Homo sapiens: one gene and its partners. The protein of the gene in region 2 interacts with the protein of the main gene of each other region in a pairwise test. Each region holds a gene or a part of one and is shown on either strand. Other genes may lie near its edges.

What was found.
Region 1: the proteins of TCL1B (region 2) and GLRX3 interact in binary tests that used the Homo sapiens proteins (3 or more experiments, as listed by UniProt).
Region 3: the proteins of TCL1B (region 2) and ZNF330 interact in binary tests that used the Homo sapiens proteins (3 or more experiments, as listed by UniProt).

What each region holds. Positions count from the first base shown.
Region 1 is NC_000010.11:130,160,268-130,163,925, reverse strand, and holds part of GLRX3 (glutaredoxin-3), read right to left. Parts: intron 3,131-3,658; coding exon 2,929-3,130; intron 1-2,928. UniProt on the Homo sapiens protein: Together with BOLA2, acts as a cytosolic iron-sulfur (Fe-S) cluster assembly factor that facilitates [2Fe-2S] cluster insertion into a subset of cytosolic proteins.
Region 2 is NC_000014.9:95,689,349-95,693,106, reverse strand, and holds the end of TCL1B (T-cell leukemia/lymphoma protein 1B), read right to left. Parts: intron 2,372-3,758; coding exon 2,201-2,371; intron 1,840-2,200; coding exon 1,786-1,839; 3' UTR 1,771-1,785; intron 1,177-1,770; 3' UTR 479-1,176; downstream 1-478. UniProt on the Homo sapiens protein: Enhances the phosphorylation and activation of AKT1 and AKT2.
Region 3 is NC_000004.12:141,233,042-141,235,351, forward strand, and holds the end of ZNF330 (zinc finger protein 330), read left to right. Parts: intron 1-673; coding exon 674-948; 3' UTR 949-1,656; downstream 1,657-2,310.

The DNA of each region.
Region 1 (3,658 bases), on a different chromosome or scaffold from region 2:
GTTAGCAGAGATAGCACTTTCAAAGCTAATTTGGTGCAAAATAAGGAAAGAGCAGCCACGTGCGTGTTCACAAGATGAGATGGCCAGTGCTTTTATAAAGGGAGCTTTGCCTACGCCCTTCTCTAAAATGCCAGAAGAAGAGCAAAAACAATGCTCCACTAACCAGGCTCAGAAAGGAACAGCAGAGGGTCGAGGTGACTTATGTTCCCATAAGAAAACAGTTTAAAAATATTTTCCAATTAATCCTAAGTATTTTATTAAAGAACAGCAACATTCTTAAATGATCTATTTACTATATGTGACAGAAAGACATGAAACAGAAAATATCAGGAAACAGAAAAACCCACTGAAAATGTAGTTATAAAAATTATATAGAAGTACTTTAAAAGAAGAAACTGTAACCATTCAACCATATGTATCTCAAAATATTTATTGTCTTTTATTAATTAAATAACTATAATACTACGTTTTCAGATGGCTCTGAAATGTGTTTTGTTTTGTTTTGAGACAGAGTTTCACTCTGTCACCCATACTGGAGTGCAGTGGCTCGATCTCGGCTCACTGCAACCTCTGCCTCCCAGGTTCAAGCAATTCTCCTGCCTCAGCCTCCCAAGTGGCTGGAATTACAGGACTCCACCATGCCCAGCTAATTTTTGTATTTTTAGTAGAGACGGGGTTTCGCCATGTTGGCCAGGCTGGTCTCGAACTCCTGATCTCAAGCGATCCGCCCACCTCAGCCTCCCAATGTGCTGGGATTACAGGCATGAGCCACCACGCCCAGCCCTGAAATATTTCAAAGCTTCTTTTTTATTCTGTTATTTGTACAGTCTTCCAAATCTCACTCCATTATAATAAACATAATTTAAATAAGTTTAATATAAATATAAAAATGCTAGCAGTATATTTTAAATTCAGTTTAATAAAGTAAAAGGTAAGCAGAAAAATTAAAATGTCTAAGTTTCTCTCTAATTTACTTGAATAATCATACAATATCTACACTGAAAAGGCCCTCCAAGATTGGCTCCAACAGCCAATCTTGTTCCCAACAGCACTAGAAGGAATTAAAGGCACAAGGAGGGTACCTGACTTGTCCCCAAAGTTGCTAAGGCCGCAGGGGTGGGCCTGAGGCTCGCCTGGCATGACACCCAGTGCAGCACACTTCCCAGGACATCCTTCTCCTCTGAGCACTCCTTCCCCAAGCTTCAGTGTTGCCACCTGCCTTTTCATTAGGTTTATCATTCAGAAAAGACTGAGACTGCTGCTGTTCAACCCCAAAGGAGAGAATACTGTAGAGATTTCACTGTAGGTGTGCTTCACCCACATTTCACAGCCAGTTCTACTGTACCTGAGATCTGAATGAAGGTGCTGAATACAATCCATTCAACTGAAGTGGTAAGTTCCCATTTAGTGGCCACCGCACAAAGTACAAGAAATAATTTTCATGTTTCATGGAAGAAGGTGAATGTGAACCATTTGCAACCCCCGTTAAAAACAAAATAACAAACGCAACAGAGACTATCTGTTGCTACCTTTAGTTTAGTACAGACTAAGTTAGCTTTGCAATACACAAATAGCAGGCATTATCTGACACATAAATACTGGCAGGGAAATTTTTTAGGCAGAACTAAGAGATACTTTTAAGACAGAATTCATGGTGGCTCACGCCTATAATCCCAGCAGCACTTTGGGAGGCCAAGGCAGGCGGATCACCTGAGGTCAGGAGTTTGACACCAGCCTGACCAACATGGACAAACCCTATCTCTACTAAAAATACAAAAAAATTAGCCGGGCATGGTGGTGGACACCTGTAATCCCAGCTACTCGGGAGGCTGAGACAGGAGAATCGCTTGACCCCTAGTAGACAGAGGTTCCGTCGCACTGAGATCGTGCCATTGCACTCCAACCTGGGCAACAAGAGCGAAATTCCATCTCGAAAAAATAAGAATTCATCATGAAACTTTATTTTTAAAACTAGACATTATCATAAGCTAATATGTAATTTAATAACCCTACAGGGAAGAATTTAGAATCAAATTCACACTAGAAGCTTGGCTATCTTTATAAAGTCACTCTGGACATGCTGTAATCATATCAAGAGCATACTCAATGTTACTGCCCCTATCTTAATAAAGTCCCTCCTGTGTAGTTGATACAAATACTCTTAGAGTCTCAACAGCATCATCAAATGGCATTAAATGCTCAATTATGCAGCATACTAATGTTGTACTAGGCACAGTAAAAAGAAAATAACATAAACCCACTACCAGAGGGGTCAAATAACTCTAAAACTTACTTAAGGACAAAATTATAAGCATCCATGTGTACAGAAAATAAGAGTGACTACAAGCCAAGAATTCGGAATCTTTCCATTACCAGCAGCTATAAACTGGAAATGACAGCAATGCAGGAAGAGAATCATTAGACAGTGATGACACAGGGGAGGCAAAAGCACACAGGCTGGACACAAAAACACTGAAAAATTCCGCAAATTTTTTAATTGCTGAATCTGAACTAGGTGAAAAACAGGAGGCTGCCAAGAAAGAAAAAATAACTGTTAACAGCAAAAGTAGATAAACAGGCAAAAGAGACAGCAATATGGTAGTTGGAACCTAATCCTAACTCTGCTTACCAGGTGACCTTGGGCAAGTCACCTCTATCTTTGAGTCTGAGGACTTCAGTATAAAACAAAAATCTGAATTAGATGAGTTCTGAGACCCCTTTTGGTTCCAACATGCTGAGTCCATAATGCAAACTAATTCTTATATAGTGTCATTGGGAATTATAACCTTTTTGATTTTCTAAAAGTATGTGAACACAAGTATAAGATGTATGGTATAGCATCCTTGGAAACAGGATGCCCATCTCAACCATACCCCATTCTGGGAAAGCACCCATTTTGTTTATATTATGTTAAAGGCAGCTTCTTACCACAGCGTGGTTCTTGAGGAGTTCCTTTCATAAACAGCATGCAGGGGGCAGCATGAGTCAATTTCTTCAAGCGAAGGTTGAGATCTTCTTTAAGATGTTCATTAGCGCTGGGTAGGAAGGAGCCACTAGATGCATGTCGCTGAACTTTTTTGGTCAACTCTGGGGCATGTGCACCATCTAATCGGTCGATTTTCTGAGAATTCTAAAGTTTAAAAAGTTATTTAGAATACATGCAGCATTCCATAATAATGACATTGTTATAGCAGATTTTTAAAGGGGACAACAGTATTACCGGAGATGTAAAAAAAGAAACCCTCATTGCCAATTGCCTGCACTGCATCTCAATTTTAGAAATACATAATTTTTTTCTTTTCTCAGAAACACACTGAGAAAACACTGCAACATCTCAAAGTCAAATCAGGTCAGTCTAACATAATACAAAAAAGACTGCCCCCACATTGGCTGGAATGAATCTATTACTAAGTATAAATGAGGTATTTGGGGAACTACGATGACACCCATGGGTGCCTGGAAGCACAGGTGTGCACCTGCTTCCTAAAAGTCATTCATCAAACCAGAACCAGCCAGAGATTCCATTATGTCCAGGCACATGCTCTAAACAACCAATTTAACCAACTCAGGGAACACTGGGGTTCCACAGCCACATATCTGAATTTTGATCAAGAAGCTCTGATTCTGGCTGCTGGCCCTACACAGTCCATGCTACTTT
Region 2 (3,758 bases):
GGTCACCCTGACCTGCACTGTATCGTCCTCTTCTTCCTGGTCACAATGGTGGCACTGCTCAGTGCCTTGGCCCCCTGCCTCATCCCTCCCTGCTCAAGGACTCTGCTCCTCTGTCATGTCATACTCTCCCACACATGGGCCCTTCCTCCCTTGCACCTGCATTCTGCATCTCCTGCAATGACATGCTGTTGCATTGTCTCGCTTTGGGAGCTCTCCCTTGCTCCCGGTTCTCCTGTGACCACTACGGGCTTTCCTGCCCTTTCACAGCAGGGCTTCACCCAGAGCCCGCACGAGTCTCCTCCCCTTCCTTAACTCCCGCCGACGTCCTGCTGCTGAATGGACCAATCACAATTTCCTTCCCAGTGTGGAAAAATATGAAATGGATCATTAAAATGTTACCTTAACATTTCGGTACCAGAAGCTGCCATTTCTATGCTAGAAAGAGGTCAAAGAGAGGCTCCAATTCAGCACAAAAGTGGACAGTGAGCAATAAAGTTTAATTAACCAGTACTGTGAGGTCACCTTCACGGACTAGCATCCCTTCCGTGAGCTGAAGGACTGAATAAGCAGAAGCACAGGCCAAACCCATCCCTCCATGCTCCCCACTGTGCAGATGGGCTCACTGAGGCTCTGGTGTACATTGCTTGCTCAGCACTGGATCTATTTCGGGCCAAAGTGTCAGCAGAACTGATACCCACAGGGCATCCAAGTCCACATCCAGACTGGGCTCCCTCTAATGCCATCTCTTAAACCGAACCACTGCCTGCCGATGGTGAGTTTCCAATCACGAGCTGCACTGGGGGTGCTGGAGGCCTGGCTGGGCACACATCCTGGTGGGTATGAAGGGGATTTGGGAGTGGCATCTAGAAGATCAGCATGAGGGGCACAGAGGAGAAAGAACCCACAGCTTGCAGCCAGCAGGGGAAACTGGCTCAGCACACAGACAGGGCCCCAGTGAAGCCCATCCAGGCCAGCTGCCCTAAGTACAGACCTGAGTGGGACAGGACAGGACTGATAACTAAGGAAAACGAGAGAAACTGAGTGTGCAGGGGCCCTACTGCCTTCTGCCTGCAAGGAGGCTATGCTGGGTGTGCAAACAGAAGAGCAGGTACATGAAGATCCTCACTGAGGGGGCATGAGGAGACACCAGGCCAGAAGAGGCAGGGCCAGCAGGGCCTGCGAGAAGACCAAAGGAGACAGTCAGTGAACTATGGGGGAGCCCGGCACCCCATCCAAGCTGCTGGGGTCAAAGGCAAGTCCAGTGCCAGCCCCTCCAATGGCCCAGGCCCTGCCTGGCCTGCTCCAAGCTGCTGCCCATCTGAGAGGAGCCCTCTATGGGTCAGTGCTGGGTCCTCCAAGGCCACCGTCACACGGCACCTCAGTGCCATGGTTAAATCTAGGGACCCGAGATCACTAGATTCACCGCTATTTCCTGGCTGTATGGTCTCGAGGAAGTCATTCCCATCCCCAGAGTCTTGTCTTTTCGTCGTGAAATGGGACATTAACACGTACACCTCACAAAATTCTCACAAGGATTAAATGATGAGTCTTATTCGATGAGATCCCATGCTTTAGGAACTTATTATGGGGGCCCACCCACTGTGTACCATCACATCCAAGGGGCTGGGGAACAGAGGTGACAGGTGGCTATGTAAGAAAAATCTCAGCAAACAGCAGGGAGGAGGAGGCCACGCCGTCTTTCTGAAAAGAGGAGAGGTCTTCTCACTTTCGTCTGATCCCTACACTGAGACGCACAGGGCCCCAACATACCAGCCACTCCCAGTGTCAGTCTTTCCTCTCCGGCTGATATGTTAGGACCAGCTGCTCCATAGAGTCAATCTGCAGGAGAGGGAGCAGCCATCAGAACCTCTGGGAGATGCTCTTCCAGTTGGCCTTAACGGCCGCCCATGCAGGCTGGCAGCAGCAGCAGGCAGGGGTGAGGCAGGTGGGAACTCCAGCTTGTGGATTTCCCTAGCCCAGGGAAGGCAACCCTCCCTCCCTCACCCACTCTGCCTGCATCCCACATGGGAACTCATGCACCGATCCACCCACACACACTCAGGCCTCCTTGAAGGAAGACTTGAGCAACAGGAAGAGGACAGACAAGAACCCCAAGGGGGCCAGGGGCACAGAAGAGAGAGGGCCACGGCAGTCACCAGGGGCCACCTGTCGCTTTCACCTAGAACCACCACACACTTGCCTGGCCATGGTCTGCTATTTCCCAGAAACTGGAATCCGCTGCTCGGTACTTCCTCCCGGGGTAGAGCTGCCACACGGCGGGCAGCTGGGAGAAGGGCATCTGGCCGGAGGAGAGTAGCTCCCGGGTATGCACTGCCATCTGCCACAAGTGCACTGTGATGCTGGGTTCATACTGAAGGGACCAGAAAAGAGGCGGCAAATCATGGATAGGGTTCCCTGCCAACTGGGCTGCACACAAGCAATGGCCAGTGGGCTGCCAGGGTCAGAGGTAAATGTTTTCAGAATTCCAGACCAAGAGCCTTGGCACTGGTACTTGTGGCTCCATCTAGGATGGCTGGGGCCCTTCTGGCCCCCTCTGACCTGCACCCTGCCTCGCCCCACTGCAATCCCCAAATTTAGCCACTGTTTCCAACCTGTCAACACCTTGGGTTAAAGCTGAGTATTCTCTTGGGGCTCCATCTCTGCCATTGCCGTAATTTTTTAAATCTTCGTTTTAAAAACAAGATATCCATGGACTCTGGATCTGAGGGTGATAGATTTTCCCGCCAAAATATATGGCAGTTCTGATCATGACCTTCACACACTTATAGTAAATATACGAAATAAGGCTGGGAGCAGTGGCTTATGCCTGTAATCCCAACACTTTGGGAGGCCAAGGCAGGAGGACTGCTTGAAGCCACGAGTTCAAGACCAGCCTCGGCAACATAATGAGACTCTGTCTCTACAAAAAATAAAAAATTAGCTGGCCATGGTGGCATGTGCCTACAGTCCCAGCTACTCGGGAAGCTAAGGTGAGAAGATTTCTTGAACCTGGGAGGTAGAGGCTGTTGTAAGCTATCGTCAGGTCACTGCACTCCAGCCTGGGAGACAGAGCAAGACTCTGTCTCAAAATAAATACATAATAATAAAAATAACAAAATTAGGCTGGTACTGGAAGTTAGAAAGATGATAGGAAAAGTAAAACCAAAGCTTCCTACGTTATGCAACAAAATGGAAAGTCTTTTGCACAATTTTCTAAGTATTTGTCTTCTTTTGTGATAAAATGTCTTTTTGAATTAAGAATATTAGTGCTCTATCAATCAGACATGTTGTGAATAATTTTTCTCAGTTTGTCGTCCTCACTTTTTTTATGGACTGCTTTTGCAAAGAGAAGTATTTTAAATTATACGGCAAAATCTCTCCTTCTCTGTGTATTCTGACTGTAGATCAGAGATCAGCAAACTAAGTCTGGCTTGCATCTGCTTTTGCAAATAAAGCTTTATTGTAAATAAACTAAGGCTCCTTCCCTCATTCCTTTACCGTTGCCTTTAGCTGCTTTTGCACTGCAATAGCAGAGCTGAGTAGCTGCAAGAGCATAGCTCTCCAAGTGGAAAATGTTTACCATCAGATCCTTTACAGAAAAAGGTGGCTGATCTTTGCATTAGATGTGTCGCCCAGGAAGCCTAATTCCCACCCTAAGACATCGATCTATTTTTAAGAAAGAAGGGGAAAAAATACTTACTAAGTAGGTCCCTTATCCCACCCGTGGCTAAGTTATTTGAAGAATCCATTCTATTTCC
Region 3 (2,310 bases), on a different chromosome or scaffold from region 2:
AGCACCTATGTTTATTTATGTAATATAGCACTACTATAGGAAATTATTTTATGGTTTTTATGTAACTTTTTTTGTGAAGGAATAAGCATGCTTATAGTAATGCAGCTCGCAATTTTGTTAAAGAGAAGTTTGACTCTTAACCAAACATATCAGAATGGAACCATAATTCTAAGTGACTGACTGCTTTGTTTAATCACAGATGTAGTTGCATGGTGAGGTGAGACTGATGATTTTGCTGATCTTCTGCACTGAACTTTGTGTCACTATTAAGGCAGAAGAAATGACAGGCTTTGTTTTTAAGGGCATCTGCATTGTAAAATAGCTGTCTTAAGAAAAATGTACTGATACGAAATCAGCTGTATTCTGTGATTTATGTGATTTGAAAATAAACTGTCAGTGGCCAAACGGAAGGTATTTTTGTTTTAAACATGCCTTAATACCTTTGGAGTGGTCTGTTGGTCTAATTTGTTTTCTAGATTTAATGAAATTACACTGTAATTTTTATTTTTTATGGTGTTGTATATAGACTCAGGTGAAAAAATTAGGAAAATGTGACCTATTTTTTCATTTGGGATTGAAGCAGCCAATGAAATCCATGAAATTTTATAGAGGAAGATGAGAATGTAGAGAACTGGAACTAACAAAATGCCTTGTACTTGTCTGTCTTCTATAGCACGCTCCCTGAAATTTGGCAGGCAGACTGGAGGTGAAGAGGGAGATGGAGCTTCTGGGTATGATGCTTATTGGAAGAACCTTTCATCTGATAAGTATGGTGATACCAGCTACCACGATGAGGAGGAGGATGAGTATGAAGCAGAGGATGATGAAGAGGAAGAAGATGAAGGCAGAAAGGATTCAGATACTGAGTCATCAGATTTGTTTACTAATTTGAATTTAGGAAGGACCTATGCTAGTGGCTATGCTCACTATGAGGAACAAGAGAACTAGGGGAGCTGCTCTGGTGGCCGTGTGTGAGAGGAGCAGGAGTGAGTGTGTGTGCTTGATGAATTGTGTGTGGTTGTTCAAAAGTACCTTAGCCACTTAGCCTTGTGCAGAAGACTAGTTACACTTAATGGGCCAAGCAATAGGGTGTAGCGTTTTTATAGAACTGATAATCAGGCTTATGGCATAAGAAAAATGAGTTTCAAATTTAAGATGTTTATTGATCGAAGCAATTGAAGTATCATGGATTGGATTGTTACTGATTTCAGTAAAGTATGTTTTGCCAATTAGATACATATATACAAGATAAAGGAATAGGATGGTAATATATTTGTTTGAAATTAAATTACTGTTTTTATTAAAAAATACTGCTTCATTGGGCTGATTTTGTAAAATGTAATGAGTAAAATGAATTACTGTATTTTTCCTTTTATGTCCACAGAATGAGAGTCATATGTTGTTATATTCTAAATTTTCATTAAATATTCATGTCACCTTGAGTTGTCATGATAAGTATGTTTTAGTATTTGACTTATTCTTCTCTTTCTTCACAATGTATGTCCTCAGTGGTACCTATTATTGATGCCTTAAATGTATTGATAAGGTGACTAGTTAGCCATTTTTCAGAGATACAGTATCAGAAATAGTATTATTACAGAAGCTTTACCCAGGACATTTTATTTCTCTTTGAATAAATCTATTATTTCACTTAAATACTTTTGACATTATATTTAATTTTTTGTTCTGTATTTTCAGTTTGTTTTGGAAAGCATTCTAATTTTTTTACAAACTGCTTCAGTTTTCACACATATGGAAATAGGTAATAGAGACTGTGTGGTATACACTTAAAGATAAGCAGCCCAGACCCCATCATTGATAGGTGGAGGACAGTCCTGTCACAAGTCCCAGTTGTTACAACTTAACACTGGCATTTAATAGGGATTGGGTAGTTGTACAAGGAGAGACAATATCTGATTGCCTCACATTTTAGATGTATGGAGAAAATTGTAGCTATGAGGATAACAGGGTTGAATGGCCATTGTTAAGCCATTTTTGTTCTATAGAAGCATACTTAACAGCCAAGGACAATAACAGGCAATGGAAAGCCAGGTGTCAAAGTTAGAGGGCCTCTGGTGGCATGTGAAAAAGCTTTTCACCTTTTGCAGTAGGACGGCTTGAAAAAACTGAGGAGCAAGCCCGAGACTTAATAGTTTCAAAGGATAAAATTTAAAGACAGTTGCCAGCCAAGGCAAGTCTATTATGCCAGCATCGGCAAACTGCTTGGGAAAACCTGTGACCCTGACAAATTAGATGGAGACATCTGAATCGATGGTGCTGGAGATTTTTACTCCCCAGACTCCTGCATTT